Homo sapiens: one gene and its partners. The protein of the gene in region 3 interacts with the protein of the main gene of each other region in a pairwise test. Each region holds a gene or a part of one and is shown on either strand. Other genes may lie near its edges.

Region 1 (3,500 bases), on a different chromosome or scaffold from region 3:
GACAGATGTGTGTATACACTACATTTGTTTATAACCAGAAGCAAAATAAACTCAGCCCACAAAGCTAGAATCTTTTCCTGGACAGTTTAGGCTTTGGGGTTTGGAAATGTAAATGTGTACCTTGCTTTAGTTTTGAGGCTGGGGAATATGTGTGGGTGTTTATGTGTGTTTTTCCTTATGTAGGTGTTATTGCATTGGAGTCTCCCATTTTCATTCTCAAATTTACCTCTTAAAGTACGAAGTAAGTAGATCAAAGGATTTGAGATGTGTAACTGGCATGATTCTGCTTTTGAAGGATCTATAGTATCATTTTAGTTAAGTGGGTCAAACAGAATCAAAACAAAACCCAAAGAAATAAATAAAAAACAAAATGGCTAAATAGTTTAAAATAGGTTAATTCGAACACAGGAAAGGATCTATTTGTTGTTTCTTTTGTCTGGTCTCCTGAGTTGTTAATTAGGTGAAAAAAGATCTGCAATGGCCCCCTCCCTTTCCTAATCTGGCTTTTACATTTATTTTGTGCCTTAAAGATTAACTACAAAGATAAACATGGCCAAAAATAAATAAATAAATATGGCCATATGTCCGTTGTTGCTTAGTCTTCCCTTGCAGCCTTTTACCCTTGATTTCTCCTTCATCTCTACCAAATATAGCACAACTCCTCAAGTAATTTTTTTTTTTTAAGATGGAGTTTTGCTCTTGTTGCCCAGGCTAGAGTGCGGTGGCACAATCTTGGCTCACTGCAACCTCTGCCTCCTGGGTTCAAGCAATTCTTCTGTCTCAGCCCCAGAGTAGCTGGGATTACAGGCACCTGTCACCATGCCCGGCTAATTTTTGTATTTTTAGTAGAGATGGGGTTTCACCATGTTGGCCAGGCTGGTCTTGAACTCCTGACCTCAGGTGATCCACCCGCCTCGGCCTCCCAGAGTGCTGCGATTACAGTTGTGAGCCACTGTATCCAGCCTACTCAAGTGATTTTTAAACCAAGGTGTGTGTATGTACATGGATGTGTATGTACACACACACACAGGTGCATGCATAGTCTCATCTTAGCCGGGCATGGTGGCGACAATCACATTTAACTCCAAAAATTTGACGTGCTATTTTCTTCTAAAACTATAGATGCTTTTATTTTTGGTCACTATTTAACTTTGTGTAAAGTGGACCAAGAGAAAACCATATTGTGGAAGACAGTTTTTCACACATTTTAGTATCCGTGTTGCACACTGTGTTAGAGATTATGAAAACCATTCTAGTTCAGTTTATCACCCAAAGCTATCACCCAACACTAACTCCTTAGTATTCTTTCAAAGGAAGCAAATAGTAAGATTACAATATAGAATGAGCTAAAATATCAAGGGGAAAGCTTCATTTCCTCTTTATTCTCTTTATCGTCCTTCCCATTTTAACCTTTTAACTTTGTTTTGATGGTGCCAAGTTGAGTCTGATGTACCCATTGTTAGCTTTGGATAGAATTTAAAGTATATCCCAGAATTAGCTGGGCATGTTGGTGCATGCCTGTAATCCCAGCTACTCAGGAGGCAAGGCTGGAGAATCGCTTGAACCCGGGAGGCGGAGGTTGCAGTGAGCTGAGATTGCGCCATTGCACTCCATCCTGGGAGACAAGAGCGAAACTCTGCCTCAAAAAAAAAAGAATTTAAAGTATATCCTTTGAGGTCATTTTATGTAACAATTAGATATAACCTCCTGTGTATCTCTCTGTTCCTCTTCAAAGTTATTAAAATTCAGCTTAGGTCATGGATTTTTAATATGAGGGCCAGCTGTACTGGTGTCAGGTAGGTGTTTTGGGTGTAGATAATTTAGGACTGGAGGGCTGAGTTAAGTTTTAGGAGGAGAATGTGGTTGAGAATATTTTGAAAGGAATTTATGGAGTTTGTGAAATAACTTCGAAGTCCTCTTCCTTTACAATATTTGAATTCATATTTGTACCTTCTCAAAATAGTGATTCATTTTTCCTAGAATTACAGGAGGGAGCTCTTTTACTAATGTTGTTTTGTTTGCAACTTTGATGGCTTATAATAGGAAGTATTCTAGTTGTAAAGAAAACTCTTTAGAGACTTTTGACTGGTCAGTATACTGAGGTGTGAGATTTGATTCATGATGAAGAAAGCCTATAGATTGCCAAAAAATTAATTCTCCAAACCACCTTTCACTCTCAGAAAATGAGACCACAAAGGAGTATGCTATAAATCAAATTTGCCAACCAATTATGTAGATATTACTCATTCTAGGACTAATGATGATGGTAAAGAAGTTGCCAGTGTTATGGCAATGAAAATTTCAGAAAGGAGGAGTTGATGATCTTCTAGATGTATATGAACACCTGTCTATATCTGCATGTATATGTTTTGACCTGCAGTGGTTGCAATGTTGATATGTGTTCAAGATTATTCCTGTCTACAAAACTGAAGGCCCATGTTCAAATTGTTCTTTATTGGGTGTTTTTATGGTCACGTGGTAACAATTTTCTTACCTAACCTACAAAAGGTTCTCTTGATGAACATTTTTATTTATATTTACTAATCTTTTTTAAAAAAAGCTTTCATAGCATTATATAATCAGATGAAGAAAGCCCAGTAGAATAAAAAAAAAATTCATTAGCCTAGCCTATATTATGTTTTCTGTCAAAGGAAAACAAATTCTCAAATAGGAATTCTAAAAATATTTACTAAAGTAAAATAACTACTTAAAATGTTTTATTCCAGTTGGAAGGAAGGTACAGGGAGAAATCGCAATTATTTAGGGGAGAAGTATATTTATTATAAGATGGTGTCCTCAAATTAGCCTACCATGGCACGTAGGGGCAGCAGCTATATTAGATTTACTAGAGGTGCTAAGTTAGAACACTAGGCTTTTATTGAGGCAGGTTTTAATATTGATAGATGCTTTTTGTTTGGTTTGTTTCTTCTGGGAGAGAATGGAGGACTTAAGTAGAAGTAGCTACTGATAACAGACTTTCTAGTAGCAGTTTCCACTCCACGGTTACCTTTTTAGTTTCATAGTATCTTTTCACAAAGTATTACAAATAAGCTAGATTCTCCCAGTTTGGGAATGCAAGTTTGCTACATTTTTAGCCTGGCAATATTTGTGTAGGTATTGCCTTATTGGAAATTCTGGAAACCTGATACTGCAACCTGCAATGTAGGATGTTTGTATGGCATTTAAAGGTAATGGTGATGTTTATTATTCTATACTTTGCATTCTGTGAGAGTAATTTTCACTCTGTCTTAAGTGTGAGTAAGCCTCTTCTAAAAATCTTGTTCTTGCCAAGAAATTTATAAATCACATACGAAGACGTCTGTTGCTAACAGTTAACTTTATGAGGTAACTATATCCTTCTATTTCTCTGGACTCATTTTTAAAAAATATGCCGAATACTGCATACTGTTTAAGGTAGTATATAAGTTTATGAGAGAAGTGGAGAGCTTTCTTCCTTGAAAAGTCGGTATTTGTTGAGATACCATTTGCCTCACAGAGAG
Region 2 (3,729 bases), on a different chromosome or scaffold from region 3:
CAACCACAGGCAAGTATTAATAAAAACTCATAAAAAGTAAATGTTCTAAAACTGCTCTAAAAAATAAAGTCTTAAAAAAAGGTAAATGTTTTGGAATAAACAGACAATTACAATAACAATGACATTAACCCCGAAGTCTGCCATCTGCCTTTGACACCATACATCTATCTCTTTCTTAACAAACAATAATTTTCAGTTATATGGACAGAAAATAAACTAAGAAGGGTAAATAAAAGGTTTTAAACTAAAACTGCTACAGGTGAGGGTGGCAGAGAAACAAATAATTTCTTCCCCTTTTCTAAGCTATTGTATACGTATGCTGCCTTATGACACCAGAGAACAAACATTCAACATCACCATCAAACAGTGACATGGATCATAAACCATTAAATTCCCCTTAATGTATTCATATTCCACAACTATGCAGGAAAAAAAAAGATTATGTGCCTCATGAATAGTCTGAAGTGAGGAGTTGACACAGCGAATGTGTATGGCTTCTTTGTCAATGACCCTTCATCAAAATGTTAACGATGTTCAAGTAAACACTCACTTCTTTATGAAGAAGAATTTGAATCATCTCTGTGACTTCAGTTTTAATGTAAAATATCTACGGTATATTCCTAACACTGATAAAAATATAATGCCTCCTATCCATCTGAATGTAGAGACTTCTATTTCTTCATGGCCTGTAGATCTGAGGCACCAAGAGAAAAGAAAGGATACATTTCCCTTTATCATAACAACTATCTTGATAATATATTTTTACCATCTGGGTAAAATCAAAGCCAGTGGATGTTTGCAAAGAAAACTGATAGTTTCATCCTAGTTGTTATTTGACCTGACTGGCTCCGTTGCCTTAAATGTGCACTGATCATATTTTTAAATACTTTCACTCACAACACAGCTATCCCTAATTACTTAATTCCACTTCCACATCTCAACTGCTGCTTGTAAATATGACAGTGCGCTTACAGACACTCATGCCTATCTTATGCCACTTTTAAACACCATGCTATCTTTACATCTCAGTGTCACACGGGGGGAGACAGCGGAAGGAGTTACAGGGCACATGGGCATGCAAAGCAGAGCTGGAAAAAAAACACTTCTGTCTTTTTAAAAAAAGTCATGTGGTTTTGATATAATATGAATATTTTATATAAAAAAGAAATTACACTCCTGAAATAACCTCCAGCCAAATGGAGTAAAATCATCATGTACCACAACAACAGTCTTGCATGGCTTCCACCAGAACTGTGCCAGGTAAAGTGTGTCTGAGGACTGGGGACCCTTCACCAACTGTTGGGTACGAGTCTGTGAAGAAATTAGTACTTAGAAACTTTTCACAGCAATTTGACAGAGTTTCTAGTTTACACTTGTTTAAATAATTTTTAAAATTGGGCTTATATTTTCTAAGTCTTTTTAAAATTTCATTTGCCTAGTAATTTGTCTGTACTATAAAAGTGTTCGTTTGAAGGACTGGAAATTAAAAAAATAAAAACTGATCCCTCACCACACATAACTTGGAAAGCACTGAAGTCAATTATTGAAGTGGATGTGTGAATGAAAAGAAAATGGGAATGCAGCCTTCAATGTATCTAAAATGGATGGCTAAAAAATGAGATTTCAAAGGCAAAACTTAAGCTTTATGATAAATAGGAACTCAGCAAACTTGTTTAACATTAACATTTTTATTATTCCTAAAATATTTACTTTAAATATGGATAGCTAACTAGATATAAAATCTACTTTTTCTATTAAAAAAACACAAGTAAGAAAAACCTCTGTAACTTAAATATTACCTTAAATTAATATAATCGTTACCCATCTTTCCTTCTGGAAATTCACACCTAAATTATGATAAAATGAAATATATTTACCATATGTAAAACACTCACACTATCATTCCTAAAAGAATCTTACAGAACATGAAAAACTAAAGGCCAGGTATGGTGGCTCATGCCTGTAATCCCAGCACTTTGGGAGGACGAGGCAGGTGGATCATGAGGTCAAGAGATCGAGACCATCCTGGCCAACATGGTGAAACCCCGTCTCTACTAAAAATACAAAAAGTAGCTGGGCATGGTGGCACGTGCCTGTAGTCCCAGCTACTCAGGAGGCTGAGGCAGGAGAATCGCTTGAACTGGGGAGGTGACGGTTGCAGTGAGCAGAGACTGCGCCACTGCACACCGGCCTGCCAACAGAGCAAGACAAAAAAACAAAAGACATGAAAAACTAAAATGTCAAATAGTTCTTTAAAATTAGGCTTTTGAATATTCAAAAGGAAAACCAGGTACATTTTACAAGATATTTCTTACAAGTTGTTAAATTTTACAACTACATTATTCAGGAAGACAGAAATGATTTATTAATGAACATTTTTCCATTTGGATATATTTTGGATGCTTAATGTAATTCAAATCTTTGAAACACAAAATGGAATCCAGTCATTTTTGTTATAAGCTTAGACATTATTGACTTTTTTTTTTAAGTAAGCGAAAAGAGTCAAAATGAACCAGGGAAGAAGGGTGGAAAGCAACTCGCTCCAGGATTTAGGGGAAACGCATCAGATTTGCCAAGCATGTGGAACCTTCTAATACCTTCTCAGCCAGGGCCTCAGTCCCTGAATGGGCTGTGGGAGGCATCCACACACAGGTAGATGTTAAGTTCTGGGAGCTTGAAGGATCACTTAGCTAAGACTGAGGTAGGCTGGGCATAAATCACTTATTGGATACTGTTTTAAGGTTAAGTGAACCTGCCTACGTAGACAGGACCATCTCTTCACTGGACATGGGCAATTTCCCTGAGCTAATGTGCCAGCGCTTTGGTTTCCTGGGATGAGGCAGATGGCCAAAGAGAGAAAGCTCTCCTAAAACTGTGTTCTTGTGTGAAATGCCACAGAAACACTCAATCTAAGAGAATCACAGTGAAACCCTGTTATAGCCAGTGTGAAGGAACAAAGACAAACACCAGGCTTCTCCAAGAGGAGGAGGAAATATATACATATTTCTTACACACATATATATAATATACATACACACACACACACACACAGGGGTGTGAAGGGTTTTAGAAAGATACTTTCCTATACAATCATGCACTGTGTAATCATGTTTTGCTTGAGGGACCAATATAAGACAGTGGTCCCCCAAGATTATGATACTGTACTTTTGCTGTACCTCTTCTATGTTTAGATCTGTTCATATACATTCAATACCATTGTGGTTAGGATTGCCTACAGTATTTAGTACAGTAGCATGCTGTGCAGGTTAGTAGCCTAGGAGCAATAGGCTACACCATATAGCCTAACGGTGTAGCAGGCTCATGGTTTGTGTAAGTACACTCCAGGGTGTTCACACAAGGAAGAAATTACTTACTGATGCATTTCTCAGAATGTATTTCCATCATTAAGTGATACCTGTCTGTACTTAAAACCATTTTTAAAAATAACTGCCTGGAATGATTTCCAGCAACTCTTTCATTGGCTGTTTTCAGACCTAGACATGAGATATCTTCTACTTACCTGAACTTGAACAAAGTAGCAGCCAAAAACCCTGCCTTAGTTCAGTTTAGTACAGTTCAGTTCAGTTGTTTGGGGCGGGGGGAGGAGGATGTTTAATTTTTACAGCTCATCATTATCAAGGCCATTTTAAAACCTTTCAGGACCCCAAGAACTGGTAAAAGATTATGTTGACTTGTCCCAGATACCTCAAAATAAAACTTTTATGGCAG
Region 3 (3,729 bases):
TTTTGCAGGGCAATGCTGGGGGAGGCCTGTCCACTTCCCCTCCTCTCCTCTTCCACCTCCTTTTACCTCCCCTTAACCACCCCTTCTTACCCTTGTGTTCTCTTTGCTCATTCCATCGATCTTCTTTAGAGAGACTCGGGACTGGCTTGAATGTATCCAAATAAATACACCTCCTGGAGTTCCTCAGTGAAGTCGAACTTAGCCCGGGCTGTGGCAGGAAGGTGTATGAACCTGGATGCCTCTGACCCATTGGACTTTGGTCCATAGGCAGTGAGAATGGTGTTGTTCATTCTTATGGTTTGGGGAGTGTTGTCTGACAGAGGGGCCTGCTGACACTGTCTCCTCACCCTCTGTGCAGCTTCTGGATGTGAAATTCCAAACCTGGCATCTTCTGGGCCTCCCAAGACTGATTCTTCCTGTTTCCCAACATGCAAATTGCAGGCTCCATAACTCCTCAGGAGCTATTGCTGGCAAAAGGCTATTTTCCCTCACTGAATTTTTGAACACGTTTCAGGATTGTAATGCAGAAGTTTTTATCTCTGATCCTGGGTAGCAGCATTTATTGGCACTGGGGAAGAGGGAAACAACAGAGTGGAGATGGCACACTGTGGGCCTGCTGGCTAAAATGCTTGTGGCTGAAAGCCTGCAGATGTGTTTGGTTTGGTTCGGTTCACATATTTTTTAAATCAGTCAATTTCACGTTGAGAGAAAAATTTTTTAAAAGTGTCTGGCCTAACATGAAAAATCAAAACATCTTCCAACTCAGCAATCACATTTCTAGGGCAATCGGCCATGACAGAGTGTCACTGTCTAATTTTAGGTGGGGGCGGGTGTTTTTACTACAGTCTCCACCACTCCCCATGGTCTCACACCTGGCCTGTGTTTGTGCTCCTGTGCATCTTTGACCTTGGGTGGGGAATATCTTGCATCAGGGTCATGGCTGCTGAGGCTCCTGGGCGTGTGTGCTCCAGAGATAGGCCTCCACTCTGCTCTGACTCTGCTGTTGCTTTGTATGGGGACTGCTCATGCCTTGGGTACGAATCGCTCACTCCTAAAGAGGAGCAGGTGAGAATGTGGGACATCAGAGAGTGCCTGGGTTTGTTTCTTCTCTGAATTTATTAGCCTGAAGAAAGAATTAGTGAAACCTGAAGTTTGGTGGTAGGGTGGGGATAGAAACTGTTGAAGGCCTTGATTTCTATAAATAGTAACCTCCATGTATGTTTGACAGGTGAAAGGAAAGCAAGCCAGGATGGATATTTACGACACTCAAACCTTGGGGGTTGTGGTCTTTGGAGGATTCATGGTTGTTTCTGCCATTGGCATCTTCCTGGTGTCGACTTTCTCCATGAAGGAAACGTCATATGAAGAAGCCCTAGCCAACCAGCGCAAGGAGATGGCGAAAACTCACCACCAGAAAGTCGAGAAGAAAAAGAAGGAGAAAACAGTGGAGAAGAAAGGAAAGACCAAGAAAAAGGAAGAGAAACCTAATGGGAAGATACCTGATCATGATCCAGCCCCCAATGTGACTGTCCTCCTTCGAGAACCAGTGCGGGCTCCTGCTGTGGCTGTGGCTCCAACCCCAGTGCAGCCCCCCATTATCGTTGCTCCTGTCGCCACAGTTCCAGCCATGCCCCAGGAGAAGCTGGCCTCCTCCCCCAAGGACAAAAAGAAGAAGGAGAAAAAAGTGGCAAAAGTGGAACCAGCTGTCAGCTCTGTAGTGAATTCCATCCAGGTTCTCACTTCGAAGGCTGCCATCTTGGAAACTGCTCCCAAGGAGGTGCCGATGGTGGTGGTGCCCCCAGTGGGTGCCAAGGGCAACACACCAGCCACTGGCACTACTCAGGGCAAAAAGGCGGAGGGGACTCAGAATCAAAGCAAAAAGGCTGAAGGAGCCCCAAACCAGGGCAGAAAGGCAGAGGGAACCCCAAACCAGGGCAAAAAGACAGAGGGAACCCCAAACCAAGGGAAAAAGGCAGAGGGAACCCCAAACCAAGGCAAAAAGGCAGAAGGAACCCCAAACCAAGGCAAAAAGGCGGAGGGGGCCCAGAACCAGGGTAAAAAGGTAGATACAACCCCAAACCAGGGGAAAAAGGTGGAGGGGGCCCCAACCCAGGGCAGAAAGGCCGAGGGGGCTCAGAACCAGGCCAAAAAGGTAGAAGGGGCCCAGAACCAGGGCAAAAAGGCAGAGGGGGCCCAGAATCAGGGCAAAAAGGGAGAGGGGGCCCAGAACCAGGGCAAGAAGGCCGAGGGGGCCCAGAATCAGGGCAAGAAGGCCGAGGGGGCCCAGAATCAGGGCAAGAAGGCCGAGGGGGCCCAGAATCAGGGCAAGAAGGCCGAGGGGGCCCAGAATCAGGGCAAGAAGGCTGAGGGGGCTCAGAACCAGGGCAAAAAGGCCGAGGGGGCTCAGAACCAGGGCAAAAAAGTAGAAGGGGCCCAGAACCAGGGCAAGAAGGCTGAGGGTGCCCAGAACCAGGGCAAAAAGGCCGAGGGGGCCCAGAATCAGGGCAAAAAGGCCGAGGGGGCCCAGAACCAGGGCAAGAAGGCCGAGGGGGCCCAGAACCAGGGCAAGAAGGCCGAGGGGGCCCAGAACCAGGGCAAGAAGGCCGAGGGGGCCCAGAACCAGGGCAAGAAGGCCGAGGGTGCTCAGAACCAGGGCAAAAAAGTAGAAGGGGCCCAGAACCAGGGCAAGAAGGCTGAGGGGGCCCAGAACCAGGGCAAGAAGGCCGAGGGGGCTCAGAACCAGGGCAAAAAGGCCGAGGGAGCCCAGAACCAGGGCCAAAAAGGAGAGGGAGCCCAGAATCAGGGTAAAAAGACAGAAGGGGCTCAGGGCAAAAAGGCAGAAAGGAGTCCCAACCAAGGCAAAAAAGGAGAGGGAGCTCCCATCCAGGGCAAAAAGGCAGATTCGGTTGCTAATCAGGGCACAAAGGTAGAGGGTATTACAAACCAGGGGAAAAAAGCAGAAGGGTCCCCCAGTGAAGGCAAAAAGGCAGAAGGGTCCCCCAACCAAGGCAAAAAGGCAGACGCAGCTGCCAATCAGGGTAAAAAGACAGAGTCAGCTTCTGTCCAGGGCAGAAATACAGATGTGGCCCAGAGCCCAGAGGCACCAAAGCAAGAGGCTCCTGCCAAGAAGAAGTCTGGTTCAAAGAAAAAAGGTGAGCCTGGTAAGTAACTGATTTCTTTATGAACTTAGAAGGAAAGGCTGTCTTTAAATGACTTATGGATTCTCTCGGGGAGTGCCACCTGTATCAGTCAGCTATTGTCATAATAAGGCTGCGTAACAAACATTCAAAAAAAAATTCAGTGGCCTTCAACAGCAGTCATTTATTGTTGCTCATGCTTCTGGAGGTTGGCAGATGTGAGCTTTCTCGGTTGGTGGCTCTGCCTCAATCTGGTTTTAACTGGGTTGGTGACTCTTTGCTACAGGTTGAGCTCAGGTCAGTTCCATGTGTGGTCCTTCTGGCGCCCTCCAGGGCAGAGGCCCTTCATAGTTACAACAGAGGCACAAAAGGGCATTTCAAGTCAGCATTTCATTGACCAGATCAAGTGATGTGTCTGAGCCTGAGTCAAGGGGCAGGGAGTCCACTGTGTCCAGGGAGAAGGGACTGCAAGGTGATGTGAGAAAGGAGAGGTGAGGAGTGAGCAACAGGTCCGTGTCTTGGCATGTCTTAAACATATGGGAGCACAAGGAGAGGTGAGGAATTAGGAGCAATAATTCTGTCCACCACACAG

What was found.
Region 1: the proteins of RRBP1 (region 3) and ATF7IP interact in a two-hybrid assay, tested with the Homo sapiens proteins (one large-scale study listed by IntAct).
Region 2: the proteins of RRBP1 (region 3) and SMAD9 interact in a two-hybrid assay, tested with the Homo sapiens proteins (one large-scale study listed by BioGRID and IntAct).

The regions. Positions count from the first base shown.
Region 1 is NC_000012.12:14,498,182-14,501,681, forward strand, and holds part of ATF7IP (activating transcription factor 7-interacting protein 1), read left to right. Parts: 3' UTR 1-3,500. UniProt on the Homo sapiens protein: Recruiter that couples transcriptional factors to general transcription apparatus and thereby modulates transcription regulation and chromatin formation. Can both act as an activator or a repressor depending on the context.
Region 2 is NC_000013.11:36,875,144-36,878,872, forward strand, and holds part of SMAD9 (mothers against decapentaplegic homolog 9), read right to left. Parts: intron 1-3,729. UniProt on the Homo sapiens protein: Transcriptional modulator activated by BMP (bone morphogenetic proteins) type 1 receptor kinase. SMAD9 is a receptor-regulated SMAD (R-SMAD).
Region 3 is NC_000020.11:17,658,028-17,661,756, reverse strand, and holds part of RRBP1 (ribosome-binding protein 1), read left to right. Parts: intron 1-1,228; 5' UTR 1,229-1,249; coding exon 1,250-3,161; intron 3,162-3,729. UniProt on the Homo sapiens protein: Acts as a ribosome receptor and mediates interaction between the ribosome and the endoplasmic reticulum membrane.